2 linked regions of the Homo sapiens genome follow. The protein of the gene in region 1 purifies or fractionates together with the protein of each later gene. This does not show direct contact. Each region holds a gene or a part of one and is shown on either strand. Other genes may lie near its edges. The genes, in order: SPATA13 and GLDC.

What was found.
Region 2: the proteins of SPATA13 (region 1) and GLDC purify together in Homo sapiens (affinity purification with mass spectrometry; 2 studies listed by BioGRID and IntAct, with this or other methods). This does not show direct contact.

What each region holds. Positions count from the first base shown.
Region 1 is NC_000013.11:24,155,591-24,163,793, forward strand, and holds the start of SPATA13 (spermatogenesis-associated protein 13), read left to right. Parts: upstream 1-5,129; 5' UTR 5,130-5,342; intron 5,343-6,825; exon of another isoform or gene 6,826-6,914; intron 6,915-8,203. UniProt on the Homo sapiens protein: Acts as a guanine nucleotide exchange factor (GEF) for RHOA, RAC1 and CDC42 GTPases. Regulates cell migration and adhesion assembly and disassembly through a RAC1, PI3K, RHOA and AKT1-dependent mechanism.
Region 2 is NC_000009.12:6,551,462-6,558,729, forward strand, and holds part of GLDC (glycine dehydrogenase (decarboxylating), mitochondrial precursor), read right to left. Parts: intron 7,224-7,268; coding exon 7,098-7,223; intron 4,842-7,097; coding exon 4,692-4,841; intron 3,321-4,691; coding exon 3,208-3,320; intron 2,049-3,207; coding exon 1,907-2,048; intron 1-1,906. UniProt on the Homo sapiens protein: The glycine cleavage system catalyzes the degradation of glycine.

The sequences.
Region 1 (8,203 bases):
TGGCAGAGACAGCTCTTTACTGCAAAATCCCAATGGCTTTCTGCAGATTCTGGCCTGCAGATTAGAAAATGGGACATTTTTAAAAACTGTGGTAAAATACACATAAGACTTACCATTTTAACAATTTTAAGTGTGCAATTCAGTACATTAAGTACATTCATATTGTTATGCAACCGTCACCATCATCCATCCACAGAACATTTCTCATCTTGCAAAACTGACATTCTGTCCCCATTAAGCAGTAACTCCCCACTTTCCCACTGCAGCCTCTGGCAATCACCATTCTACTTTCTGTCTGTGAATTTGCCTACTCCAGATACCTCATATAAGTGAAATCCTACAGTATCTGTCCTTTTGTGATGGGCTTATGCATTTAATGTAATGTCCTCAGGGTCCACCTGTGTTGCAGCGTGTGTCGGAATTTTGTTCCTCTTTAAGGCTGAGTGATATTCCATTGTATGTATTTACTACATCTTGTTTATTCATCCATCCATTGATGAATACTTGGGTTGCTGTCACCTTGTGGCTGTGTGAATACTGCTGCTATGAAAGTGGGTGTACAAATATCTGTTCGAGTCCCTGCTTTCAGTTCTTTTGGGTATATCCCAGAAGAGGGATTGCTGGATGATACGGTAATTCTAGTTTTTTGATTTTTGAGGAATTGCCATACCTGTTGTCCACAGCAACTGTGAGGACAGCGTGAGACCGTTTATTCTCCTCTTTTGCCTGTAGCTGCCCTGCCCATTCGTATTCCCCCCTCCAAACCCAGGTGTGATGGGGGCCCTGTCTCCGAGCAGACAGGGAGGCACCGTAGATGGCACACTGGATCTGGCTCCTGGCCCACCCCATCTGTACTCTAGTCCTTTGGCCTTGATGACCCATTCCTGGAGGCAAAATGCTTTCCTCTCTGTGCCTCAATTAATTGGGTTTCCCAGCACCCCAATAGCCAAATAGATACTTATGTGCTAAGATAATGTGATAAATGCCAAACATTATTCTGTCATCCTAGGAAGCTTCAAATTAGAGAGAGATCTGCTCTAGTAAACTGTAGAATAAAATATAGCAAACGCACCTTATCCATTCTAATCAATGATAGCCACCAGTTATTGAGCATTTGACCACGTGCCAGGCAGTGAGCTGGGACTTTACATACATTATTACACTTAATTTTCACCATAAGATATCACAGATAAGGAGCCGGTCAAAGTGAGGTTATGAAGTTTTCCTAGAACCCACATGGACAGAGAGCAGAAGAGGCTCAGGTTCTCTCCTGCTCTCTTGGGTCTTGCCTTATGTGCCAGAGGCATCTGTGGTTCAACCAACCCCCTTTTGTCCCCTGCCACCTTCACAACCAACAAGATGCTGGAGGCTGCTAGATGAAGATAAAAATGTCAGTGATATTACTGACAAAATCATCTGGAGAATGAGTGCACAATTGTTGCTAATGATCTCTGAGTGACCTCCCAGCTCCTTTGCCTCTGCTTCCCTAACCCGGTCTAGACCTTAAGTTACTTCCTCCAGGTGAAAGTCTGGTCTGTGGCATCCAGACACTGACCGCAGATTTCTCCCAGCCGTAGTCTGGGCGGAAAGGTTAAAAAAGAGTGAATACTCTGTGCTGTTAATAAATTAATAAATCAGGTTATTCTATCAAGGGAGTCTACCAATGGATTTCTCCAACCAGTCAGGTAACTCCTTTTTCTTTTTTTTCTTTTTAATATATTTTTTTGAGATGGAGTCTCGCTCTGTCACCCAGGCTGGAGTGCAGGGGCGCGATCGCGGCTCACTGCAAGCTCCGCCTCCCGGGTTCACGCCATTCTTCTGCCTTAGCCTCCGGAGTAGCTGGGACTACAGGCGCCCGCCACCACGCCCGGCTAATTTTTTTTGTATTTTTAGTAGAGACGGGGTTTCACCGTGTTAGCCAGGATGGTCTCGATCTCCTGACCTCGTGATCTGCCCGTCTTGGCCTCCCAAAGTGCTGGGATTACAGGCGTGAGCCACGTGCCCGGCTGGTAACTCCTTTTTCTGCAGTAGAGGGTGGGGCGGAAGCCATACGGGTTACTTTATAGGAGCTCCTCAAAGAAAAAAAACTGAAATGAGGAGAAAGGAGTTTCCTTTCTGCCCTGTACCTCTTGAGAAACCCCTGCTGAATGGAACTTTCAGCAGATGGAATACAGCATTGCTTCTCCCCAACCCTGGGGGAGCTCACAGCACTGCTTTGTTCAGAGCATTTTCAAACAGGAGCATGAGATCAAATCCTGGCTCCACTGCTCACCAGCTGTGTGACCTCAGATGATTCGTTCAACCCTTCTAACTTCATTTGCCCCATATATAAAATGAGAAGGATAACTGTACCTCAAGGATTGTCTTGAGGATTTAAGAAAATGATGAATGTAAACAACGTGGCATAAGTGTCCAACAAATATTAAGGGAAAGACACATTCTAGTTTTGGAGATGTTATGTGGAACAACAACAAAAAAAGCGCGTTAGACTTAGTGAGAGGTGGTAGTTTCTATCCTTAGACACTCTCCTGCAGAAAGCATCAGTGTTGTTAGGACGAACTTGGGTGAAAGTTTTGAATATTCAGGCTCCAGTTAGAGTCTTGAGTACCAAAAGATCAGCAGAGAAGAAAAGAGGTCACCGACCTTTGGAGGTTCCCACTTGCAGGAAACAACAGAATGCAGATGCCGGCCTTGTCTGCGAGGCTGTGAGTGATGGCGGCCATGTGGATAGAGAGCCATGTTGACAGAAAGCCACTGCGGGAGACCTAGGCTTTTACACAGAGGCCACATTGTGATTCCCGCAGGAATGGTAGAAATGGAAGGAAATTTAGCTATTGCTCGTCCTAATCTCTGACTTAACAGAATGGAAAAGCAAGAATAAGCGTCGGCTGGTGATGTACTCCCGTGATGAACACAGCTGGTTAGAGCCAGGTTGGACTGCGCCGCCTCTTCATGTCAGATCAGTGAATTTTCTCTTGAGCCATCCTGCCTTCCTCTAATAGATTTGTAATCTGAACCCAGACATATCTTTTATCCCAGGCGCTCAAAAGGTTTTCACTGAAACCCTGAAAAAAATATTTTTTAAAACTCACAAACAAACAATCAGCAAGCACCTGTATGTGCTAAGTTGATAGATAGTAAGAGTCTTACATGGGCTAAAGTTTTAATTCTCCACCCAATGCAGAGTGAGGTCCCACTGTCACCGGCTCACTGACGAGGAAGCTGAGATTCAGCAAGGTCCAGCACTCGCCCAGGGCTTGTACAGGGCCTCAAGGATGCGGGGGTCTTCAGGTCTAGTTGGTATCACTCCACAGAAATCCATTCATCTGAGGGCCAGGCCTGTTTCCCAAGGACATAGTTTCAAATATAGTGCTTTCTTCACTATAAAAAGTATTGCATGTAAATGTTAATAGTGGTTTCCAAGTAGGCAGAAATAACCTTTTGAAACACAATTTTTTTAAAAGAAAAATCAAAATCTGCTCCTCAGATTTGTGCTAATTCTAAAGAGATAATAAAAAAACCCTCAATTTAGACCGTGATATTTTTTTTTAAATAATACTAACATAGATTTCATTTTAGCATTTGTGAGTGCTTTGTGCAGATTTTTTATAGAGTAGAAATAAAATGGAACAGTCAATGATATTAGCCTCACATACTATGTTTCTAAAATTTTCCAAGGTTTGGTTTTTATATTTTTTCAGCTTTAAAAATACATGGTCATTGTTAAAACTTGGGGTAATTTCAATAACAATTCAAAGAATTAAATAAAATTTGCCCATATTTCCACCACCCACAGATAATTATCATTAATCTTGGAGTGTGCTTTAATTAATAGACTATTTTTAGAGCAGTTTTAGGTTTAGAAAACAGGAATGGAAAGTACACGGAGTTCTGATGTACTCCCTCACGCCCCTCCCTCCACACACAGCTGCTTGTACTGACATCTTACATTCGAGTGGCACATGTGTTATGATTGATGGGCCCATGTTGTTACATTAAGATGAACTAAGTCCATTACTTACAGGAGGCTCACGCCGCATGCTGTTCATTCTGTGAGTTTTGAGAAATGCATAATGACATGAAGCCACCATTATAATGTCATACAGAGTTTTTTCAATATTTTAAAAAACATACATAAAATTAATTTTCACTTTTCATTGGGTAATATAATTTTTGTTTTTTATTTTACAGATTGTGGGTATTGTTCTTTGATTATAAAAGACAATAGACATTTATAAATAATAGTGCTGGCCACTAAATGAATCATCTAAAAAACTACACTGGTAGAAAGCATGCATTTATTTTATGAATTCCATTAGCTGCCTATCAGGGAACATGGAGCACTGGGGCACAGATCCCAGCACAGAAGGGTTTGCTTCTCTTCTGTGGTTTTCATGTCAATTAATGATTAGGCCTTGAGCCTCACAAGAAAGGTGATAGGCCTTTGAGTCGGTTTACTGCAACAGTCTACTCAAGACTTGCCCCAGGCCCTGGGAAACATGTAGGTTTAAAAATCCCTACCCTGCGTTTTCCTTTCACAGGGAGTGAACTTCTGGCCCAGGCAGTGGGCAGTGGGGCACGGTTGCCCCGGAGATGAGACTCCTCTTCCCGCCCTGGGGGGTGGGGGCTGGCTGGTGGCTGAGGGAACTATTTTTGTTTGTTTCTTTTTTTAAAAAACGGAGTCTGGCTGTGTCCTCCAGGTTGGAGTGCAGTGGCGCGATCTCGGCACACTGCAACCTCCGCCTCTCGGGTTCAAGTGATTCTCCTGCCTTAGCCTCCTGAGTAGCTGGGATCACAGGCGCCTGTCACCACGCCCGGTTAATTTTTATTTTTATTAGAGACGGGGTTTCACCATGTTGGCCAAGCTGCTCTCAAATTCCTGACCTCAGGTGATCCGCCCACCTCGGCCTCCAAAAGTGCTAGGATTACAGGCAAGAGCCACTGCGCCTGGCCGGGGAACTGTTTTTGATGGGTGGGGTCCCCGGCTGTGGTTGGTAGTGTGGGGGCGTGGCCGAGGGTGTGGCCTGAGGGAGTGAGCTAACCGGGGGCGTGGCCTGATATGGGGCGGGGGGAAGAGCCGGGCTGGGGGCGTGGCCTGGTGGGGAGCGGGGCTGGGGCGTGGCTTGGCTGAGTGTGCTGCCGCGGCGCGGGAGGAGAGTGTGCGTTGCGCTTTCTCCCGCGATCGCCCTGCCGGTCGCTAGCTCCGAGGGCGCGCACTGGATCCCAGGCTCCTCCGAGAGTGCGGCGACCTCGGGGCTCCGCCGGCACCGGAGGTGGCTCTGAGGGCAGGGACGTGTTGGACACGCTGACTTTGTAGGCTCCGCCAAGAGGCGCCGCAGGAGGTAAGACGGCTTCGGGCGCGCGGCTCTGCCGGGCGGGCGCGGGCATGGGCTGTTAGGTAGAATATCGGGAGGATTTGAGTCCCAGTGGACTGCCTCGGGGCTTCGGGATGTCCAGCTCCCAGCTGCTTGGCCTCTGCTTCCCCCGCCGGTGGAGGCTACCGGGTGCTCACCTGTTAGGTCCGTGCGCCCGCTCCCTGCCCGGCGGTGGCTCTGCGCCCTCTGGGCCACCCGGCACCATCGCTTTTGGGAGGACATGCACGTGGTGTTCTCGCAAAAGGCCGTTTCCAGCCGGAAGCCTGCAGGGAGGTCGCCTTGTAACTTCACCCGCGCTCCCAGCTCGCGGGGCCTGGCCTACAGGGGCGGCCGTGGGGGTGGCAGAGTCTGGGGAGCCTGGCGCGGCGGAGCCCTGTAACGCTCTGCTCCATCGGGTGGCGTGGCTGGTGCCTCCGGGGACCCGGAGCGATGCGGTTGGAGAGCTTAGTTTAGAAAGCAAGTTTCTCTTGGTACCAGCGGAGTCTCGTCCCAGGGGAAAGATTTTGGGACCCGGTGCCCATCGTCTGTGGACTGCAGGGAATGCATTGGCGGAGTTGGTTTGGTCCCATTCTGTGCAGGAGGTGGGGGAATTGGTACTCCAGCCCCAGGCAGGTAGAAGCCCGCGCTGCTGCCAGCGTCAGGGGGAGCTCGGGTGACTTGGGCTGGGCCACCCATCTGACTGCAAGGTTACAGAGCTTGAGCAAATTTCCCCTCCCTCCAAGTGCAGGAAAACCAAACCAAAGCAAGCAAACAAAACCCTGTGGGTCATTTGCTTCCCAGCATTGCATAGGGATGTGGATAAATAGAATAATACTGTGAATTTATTCAGCTCTTGTTCCCATGGCTTCCCATAGCCTTATATTATGCACCTCCCCCTGCCAGCATTTTCTCTGTCCCCACCTTCGGTTTTTGCTGCCTCGTGTTTTCTTCTCTGTGAACCTTTCCTGGTCACCCAGCGATTTGCTCTCCTTTATTCCCCTTGCTAACAGGCGGAGAAATCTCACTCCTTTTCTTTTTCCACCTTTCCCAACAAATTCTCCTTTTTTCCTAATGTCCCCCTCCCCCGTCTTGCAAACTTCCTCACTGCATTATTCTCGGGGTGCCTGTCATGCACCCTCCCTGTTCTCTGCCCTCCTCCCGCACTTTAGAGTTTCATGTGGCTTTGTCTTATTATCCCATATCCTAATTCTCATCTACCTCCCTTGGCCCCCACGTTTGCCATCTGCCTCCACCCAGTTCTCCCATCTCCTTCCTTATTTGTGCTCCCGTGCATATGCAGGTTTCTTCCTTGTTTCCCCATGTTTCTCCCACAGGTGCTTTCTTCCCTTTGCCCTACTTCTCCCTGGCAGGCGCTCTGCCCAGCCACAGCCTGCCCCGCCTGGAGGGCACACCTTGCCTCAGTGCCTTCTGCTGCGGTTTTCCATGCTCCATCAGCATCCCTGGGTTCCTTGTGTTCTTCCAGTCCGCCCTCTGTCACCTTGCAGACGGCTTTCTCTCCGAATGTCTGCAAGTGTCAGAGGCGAGGAGTGGCAGCTGCATCTCTGCAGGAGGACTCTGGATTTCAGGACCCTCCCTTCTGCCACTGCTTCTGACTGATTGTTTTCTTATTGAAGTCGTATCCTCTACATAGTTCTAGAATTAATGTCAATATTGATGTTAGGTAGCATCTACCAAACTCTGGGTGTGTGCCAAGCACTGTTCTGAGGGCTTAACGTGCATCAGTACTCATTTAAAATCCTCCACACATCCCTATAATGTAGGATCTACTACTGTCCCCATTTGACAGATGAGAAAAGGAAGGCTCAGAGGAGGTAACCGGCATGGCTTCTTGCCACTGCCTAGCAGTGGAGGCCCTCTTCTCACCAGACAGTGGAGCTTCCCTGCTGGGTGACCTCTTGAACTCAGGCATGCCTGGAGTTTAGCTTTGGAAAGGAGGTTGTTATATGACATGTTTTATTTAGTCTGCAATGTACACCAGTGGAGGACATGAATTCTATACCTGTAGGACAGTGCATGGAGAAAAACCTAATGCCGGCTGTCCCTCAGAAAGCCTGGGGCCAGTGCCTGGGCTGTCACCTCATCCATGCTATCAGTCTACTTTCCCTCTTAGCCACAGGAAGCCCTGAAGAAAGTGGCATAAAAATGACCTGGCTGGGCACAGTGGCTCATGCCTGTAATCCCAGCACTTTGGGAGGCCGAGGTAGGAGGATTGCTTGAGCCCAGGAGTTCAAGACCAGCTTAGGCAGCATAGCAAGACCCCATCTCTAAAAAATAAAAATAAGAAATCAGCTGGTTGTGATGGCGCACTCACCTGTAGTCCAAGGTGCTCAGGAGGCTGAGGTGAGAGGATCTCTTGAGCCTGGGAGGTTGAGACTGCAGTGAGCTATGATTTTGCCACTACACTGCAGCCTGGGTGACAGAACGAGAGACTCTGTCTCTAAAAAAATTAAGTTAAATTAAAAAAGAAGACTACTGCCAGCTGTCTCCTCCCGTGCATTGAGAGTTCCGTTTCACTTTAGCTGGACAGATCTTTATGGTCTCTGTTAGCTGTGTGACTGTATGAGTCTTATTTATATCCATTTCATTATGTAATCTTAAAGCCTTGTCCAAACATTTCTTTTTTAGTCTTTATCTTCCTAAGAGTTGGAGGCAAGTAGTATTTCTACTTTACAGATACTGAAGCAGAGCATGCACCTTGATAGCTGAAAGGGACTTTATATTCTACAGATGAGGAAACCGTGGTCCAGGGAAATAAAATGGCATATTCAAGGGAAAGCAGCAGGACAAAGTTGGCTCTAAGGCTTCTCTGGTTCAGGGCTCAATGCCTG
Region 2 (7,268 bases), on another chromosome or scaffold:
AAGACTGCACCAATTCTTATGGCCTACTTTCTTCCCAGAGTACCTCACATGTGATGGAGTTGGCATATATATTAAATACATAACTAATGTAAAGAGAATGAGAGAGCACCAAATAAAACAACAGTAGTACTTTGGTATCATTAAGGGGGTCCAAAGTAAAAAGGGGCCACATTGCTCCAGGCTGGTCAAAGAAGGGTTCCTAGATTAAGAGCCAGAACTTGGCTAGAAACTTAGAAATAAGTAGAATTCGGATAGGGAAAGAGAAAGGAGAAGGTATACCAGGTGAGAAGAATGGCAGAAATGAAGGCGTGGAAGGGGAGGGCACATGACTGTCATCTGGGAGTGGATGTAGGGCAAGGTGAGTTGTGACTCCATTTTTAAGCCCAAAACTTCTCTAGGAAGGACTTCGACTTTGTCCAGCCAACCACTGGCTCTCAACCTATGTCTCATGGGGGGATTTTTTAAAAATGCAGACGGCTTAAGTCCAACCCTACATGTGCTCAGTTTGGTTCTCCTTGGAATGGGGCCTAGGCATGTGCATTCTGAAAGAATCCCCTAAGGATTTCGTGCAGGCTAGTGAGAACCAGGTAAAGCAACAGGAAGCCACGAGAGATACGTGGGGGCCTAGGGTGAGTCTAGCAGTCCTGTAGGTGCGCCTGTGGAATTGCAGCAGGGAGAGAAGCAGCTAAAGCTAGAGTCCAGGGGATAAGTAATAACAGCCTGAAATAAGAGAAGGCCCAAGGCCAGAGGGGGCAGCTTAAACCCTACTTTATTTATTTAGTTTTTAAACTGAGGCACCAGCTGTTGTTCCAGGCATGTAGCCAAACCAACCTTGGGGCATTTATTTCCTATATGTGGGAAGTCATCTCCAACCCAAATATGTTCATACAAATAACCCAGATTTACAGAACCCAGAGATCAAAAGGGAAGTGGAATTTGATTCTGCTTACAAAGAAGCAGACCTTTATTCTGATTGCTTGTGTTGTTTGCAAAACAACTTGAGTATCATTTTTAAAAGCAAGTGTTAGTGTCTGAGGTACAGAATTGTTCCGGCTTCCAAGAAACTTTTCGTGAAGAATCATAAATGCCATGCTGTTCCAGAAATAAACAGTCAGCTCCACAGAGTCCTCTGGAATGATTGGCATAGCTGCGTTTTGGGGGTTTTGTTTCAGTGGGAGCCCGCCTTCCTTTAAAGAGGGGCACTGCTTTGGGGAGACTGCTCTAATGAGCAGCCAAACAAGTGTTCTTATTCACAGTCTTGTCAGTCCAGGAGGTGGGCAGGGCAGTGTGAACAAGAACTGTAGAAAATCAACTCTGGCCCTGGTGTTATTTGGAATAAGACAAAGGAAGGAAGCCTGTACTCTGACTAATTACGCAGAGAGCACAGCACCACAAACCCTAAAGGCCAAAGAGCTCTGGGGAAAAACCAGAGAAGCAAATTTCTGCTATTTTTCATCTTCTCCTCTGGCCCCCCCCAAGAAATATATAGCAAAGTGAGATATATAGCAGGATCTCAGCAAAGTGGAATAATTAGTACATGCACTGCTTTTCACTCGGAAGGGGCTATATAAATCCTGCAGGAAACCAAAGGATGCGGCCAGAACATCCATATGACTCATGGAACTTAGCTGTGTCTGGAAAAATATATCTGATGTTTCAGTTTCTCTGATGTTAAACCCACTCTGAGAACCCAAAAGAAGTAGTGTAATGAAGGAGAGATGAAATGATTTTTAGCTCATCTCTTCAGGAAGGTTTCTTCCACCCAGGCCATCAGCAATATTCTTTGAACCACATCTCAGATCATGAATTTATTTGTTTTTAAGCCAAGAAGTCTGCAGTATCCGGTCCCCATGCATGCCTGACGCCCCCACCCACCTGCACACCTGCACATACTCCCAGGCCTCACCTTGATATAAGCCCAGGAAATGGGCAAGATGGAACTGGAGCCCCATGGGGCCGCACTGACGGTTCCCACAGGACAGGCATCCTCATTCCGCTTTAGTGAAATGACGGGATGATTGGGCAAAAACGGGGCGAGATGTTTCTTCCTGTATTTTTTTTAAGTGCAAATTCAGAAAATGTAAACGATTCAGTTTAATCTAATGGGAAGGTTCTGGGCCCTCCCAGAAAGCCTTGTTCTTAGCAGAGGAGCTCTGACAGTGGAAGGGACTCTCCACCTGCTGGGAGGCAGATGTTCAGGAAGCGATCCTTCCTTCCTTCCTCCTCTGGTGGAGGTCCACCAGCCATCAGTGTCCCAGGGCTCACCCAAGAAATGTGGTGGAGGGCTTGATAGAGGCAGGCAGCCATAAAACAGTGGAGTTCCATGTCCCTCCCTCCCACTCCCAGCCCCATTCCCTCACCCCTATACACTTTCCCAAGATGGACATAGGAGGGGCTGATGAGAAGATGCCCCATGGGCTGACATGAACATCATTCTCCCCACCTCCCTGACAGCTGAAGCACTGGAGCTCACACATTTACTAGAAATAATCATCATCAAAATGAATCTCACTTTAACCGTAGTCCAAGAAAAAAAAAACAAGAAAGAAGAAAAAAGTAAGAAGGCCAAGCTTCCAGCAACTCTGAAAACTGACTTCTTTAGCATATTTTTGGGAGACTGAAGCAGCTCAGGAAAACAGCTGCTCTCATCATCATTTTCCCAAGATGATTTGATTTCAGTGTAAAAAGTTATCCACAGCTAAGAAATATTCCTTCAGTCCTACTCTGGCTTCATCCAATTATTTCTAGTAACCAGGTTTGTTTCTTCCTTACTTATGTGTTACTTATCTCAACACCTTACATCTAATTCACTTTCAATGGAACCATTAGCTGATTTTAAAAAAGAAAAAAAAAATGCTAGGAAATCCAAAAGTCCGAAAGGCACTTTCTAGTGCCAATATTCCAGTTACAATACGTATGCTCAGGTGAAGTTCCCTATTCATTATTCTGTTAATAAACCTGCTGTCTATGTGCAACTGGAAGCTCAGTGAGGCCAGATGCTATGGTTAGTAAAATCTAATTACGCTTTTCTTTGGAAATCCCCTAAAAGCACCCATTTTGCTGCTCCTCCCCCAGCCCCTACAAGTGCACTACACCGATGAGGGTATCCTCAACACATGAAGACTTTGATGGGATGAGTAGTCTATTTAGGGCCACTCCTTCATTCTGTCTCCAAAGCCATCCTGAAACCAGCAGCCCAGAACTTACACTCCGATGGGCCCCATGCCAGGACCACCTCCTCCGTGGGGAATGCAGAAGGTCTTGTGAAGATTTAGGTGCGAGACATCAGACCCGAAGTCTCCAGGGCGACAGATTCCCACCTACCACAAAGGCAAGGGCCAAAAGCAAAAGTCAAGAGCTTGGAAGCACCCTCCAGTGTGAAGGCCATGGCTGGCCGGTGCTGCCTTCTCCCCTCAGAGGAAAAGCAGGCAGAGCCACATCCATGGTGTTCACAGAAATGTCCTCTATACTGGCCCAGTTCCGTAGTCACAAACTGGCATCCGATAGGCAGAGTGCTTGTGGTTGCTATGGAAATAGCAACTGACCATTTAGTCCAATTTAGATTTAAAAATATGGATTTGAATACACAGTCTCTTCCTAATTATCCACACACCACAAAGGGAGAGAAGTGTCTCTAACACAAGAAAGGGCAGAACCTCCATGTTGTTGAAATAGGCAACTCTTCCCTGAGCAGCGCTACCTTCCCCTGCGTGGTCGGCTTTAGTATGATGCACGTTACCGAACGGCCCCGTTGGGCACAGTGATGGAAGGGGCTGCGGGGGCACCAGGGAGGAGGCTGAACTGAGAGAGGGAAGGCAAGGCTCGCAGTCTTCCCGAGATGACCCAGATACCAGGCATGCCATCCCACTAGCCTTCCCACCACTTGGGTGTTAGGACTAATTTTGATGGTGACCAAAGGTACAGAATTCATTTATGCTACAGAACCAATAGACAATCTCTGGATTACACTTGTGAAATGAATGAGAACCAAAGAAAGGCTCTAAAATGGTAGGAAAAAAAAAAGAGGTCGGGCGTGGTGGATCACACCTGTAATCCTAGCACTTTGGGAAGCTGAGGCAGGTGGATTGCCTGAGCTCAGGAGTTCAAGACCAGCCTGGGCAACACAGTGAAACCCCATCTCTACTAAAATACAAAAATAAAAATAAAAAAATTTAAAAAAATTAGCTGGGTGTGGCAGCATGCACCTGTAGTCCCAGCTACTCGGGAGGCTGAGGCAGCAGAACTGCTTGAACCCAGGAGGTGGAGGTTGCAGTGAGCAGACATCGCACCACTGCACTCCAGCCTTGGCGACAGAGTGAGACTCCATCTAAAAAAAGAAAGAAAGAAAGAAAAAGGAAAAAAGCAAACACCAATAAGAGTCTCAAAAAGATTGTGTCACTCCTCTCCTGCAGGGGCTCCCAACAGCATTTCTTCAGAGGTTCACAGTACATAGATCCTCTGTCCCCCAAGTAATCAGGATTGGGCCCTTTGAGCCCCCATTTCACAGCTGATAAAGCTGATGCCAGGATAAGTGGCTTTCCAAGGCCATGAGAGATCAACAACCACCAGTGGTCAGGTCGTGGGTCTGAGTTCCCTCAGGCAGGAAGCCTCTCAAGAAGTCAGAATTTTTTTTTTTTTCCACATATCCATTTTCTCAGTGGGAACTAAGGGCGGGCCTCTTCAGTTCCCACCTGAGCATTCATATTTGCCCCGTCTAGGTAGACCTGTCCTCCATGTTGATGGATGAGGTCACACACGTCACTGATGTTCTCTTCAAACACCCCATTGGTGGATGGGTATGTAATCATGATAGCTGCTAGGTTCTCCTTGTGCTTATCCACCTGTGAAAGAAAAGGGGTAGAGAAGGACATGGAGGGAGGATATGTTTCTTTCTTGGCCAAATCCTCGCCTTTCATTTTAAAGGATGAAGAAAGATGAAGTCTCAGTCTTTACTTTCCTGGAACTGTCTCAAAGTACAATGACAGCAATAAAAAAAAACCACAGCCATTACTCCCTTCACAAATCATTCCAAAGAAATAATAAGATCCTGGCTGGGTGTGGTGGCTCATGCCCGTAATCCCGGCACTCTGGGAGGCCGAGGCGGGCAGATCACCTAAGGTCAAGAATTCGAGACCAGCCTGGCCAACATGGTGAAACCCCGTCTCTACTAAAAATACAAAGATTAGCCGAGCATGGTGGCAGGTGCCTGTAATCCCAGCTACTTAGGAGGCTGAGGCAGGGACAATTGCTTGAACCGGTGAGGTGGAGGTTGTAGTGAGCCAAGATCACACCACTGCACTCCAGCTTGGACAACAGAGAGAGACTCCACGTCAAAAAAAAAAAAGAAAAAAGAAAAAAAGAAATAATAAGATCCTTTCAGGCTAGGTCTCTATGGTCCAGACCAAAAGGACTATTCACAAGATTTTTGGATATTTTGGGCCCAACTCTCTAAGGTGGTTTTCCCTTGGTTCAAGTCATCTCAATAACGATTTCAGACGTTTGTGGTTCTAGGTGCGTCCATTCTCATAGTTAATCTCTCTGCTCATCTTCTCATATCCATTCCTTTCCCTTGCCTTCTGTTGAAGTTAAAATTCCCAAATTACAGCTAGATAGGAGGAGTAAGTTGTAGAGTTCTATACCACTGCAGGATGACTATATTTAACAATATATAATTTTGAATAGTTAGAAGGAGGATATTGAACGTTCCCTCAACACAAAGAAATGATACATGCTTGAGATGATGGATATGCTGATTACCCTGATCTGATCTCTATACATTTGATGTATAGAAACATCACTATATACCCCATGACTATGTACAACTATTGTCATTTAAAAAGATAAAGAACAGAGGCCAGGCGTGGTAGCTCACGCCTGTAATCTCAGCACTTTGGGAGGCTGAGGCGGGCGGATCATGAGGTCAGGAGATCGAGACTATCCTGGCCAATACGGGGAAACCCTGTCTCTACTAAAAATACAAAAAGTAGCTGGGCATGGTGGCACACGCCTGTAGTCCCAGCTAATCAGGAGGCTGAGGCAGGAGAATTGCTTGAACCCGGGAGGCGGAGGTTGCAGTGAGCCGAGATCGTGCCACTGCACTCCAGCCTGGGCGACAGGGTGAGACTCCGTCTCAAAACAAACAAACAAAAAGATAAAGAACAGGAATTGGAAAAAAAAAAAAAAAAAGAATTCCCACAAGAAGTGTTTCTGTAAATAAAAGTCTTCTTTATTCTTTCCTTTTACAGAAGGCAAGCATATATAAAAGTCACATCCCTGTTTGTTTTCCTGGCCAGCATATCAGAGCAGGCATGTTTGAGAACATGGGGGTGGCCAGGGAAGTCATGTCCTATATTACTATAATGGAGGGACTTAATAATTTCAACTACTGGCCTGGAACACTTGTTGGAAAAAAGCTTTGTGGAGCAATGGAAGGGTAGAGGTGGATCGAAGAGAGGTGCAGCATTGTGGATTTTCAGCTTCCTTTAGAAGGCAACTGCACAGAGTTCACAGTCTCCATGCCTAATAACACCACCATCAAAATCACATTGCTATTCCACTGGTTTCCTTCCCGCTTAAGATGCAGCTGCCAGTCCGCTGGTGGGAAGCAGATACGGTTGCTAAGCAACTTCTTCCTGGAGGTTGGGAGGTTGAGAGTGGGGGTTGGTGGAAACCAAGCTGCATGATGCCAGGAATTCAGCATGATGGGGCTGGCACAGTCATGGATATTTGCAAAGCTGACATTTGTGTTACAATTCCTGACACGAAGATGTGTAAGTGTGACTGCCATTTTGATTATTAAGTGGGGAAGGCGAGAAGGAGAGGGAAGATTGGGCAGAAAGAGGCAGGCAGGTTCTGCAAGGAGTACTCTTACTACCACCATGAATAATTCATTCAGTTTTTTACACAAGCTGGAATTAGAAAACGGGGATTTCTCCCTGTTGGTGATGGGAGGGGTAGAGTAGACTCTGGTCAAAGGAAGAACTGCAGACTTTTCATTAGAATGCAAGAGAAGACATTTACATAATCCATCAAGTCCCTGATCCCCACCAGCACTCCCCATCCCGGCCTCTCCCATCTGCTAAGGAGAAGACAAGTACCATGGCCTTGAGGTGAACTGCATCGATATTCCCATATTTATCCACCTCCACAGGCTGAATCTTCATGCCTGCCATGTGGGCACTTGCTGGGTTGGTCCCATGTGCTGATTTCGGAATGAGGCAAACCTACAGAATAGAAAGGAAGCAAAGAAAGAGCAAAATCATCATCAG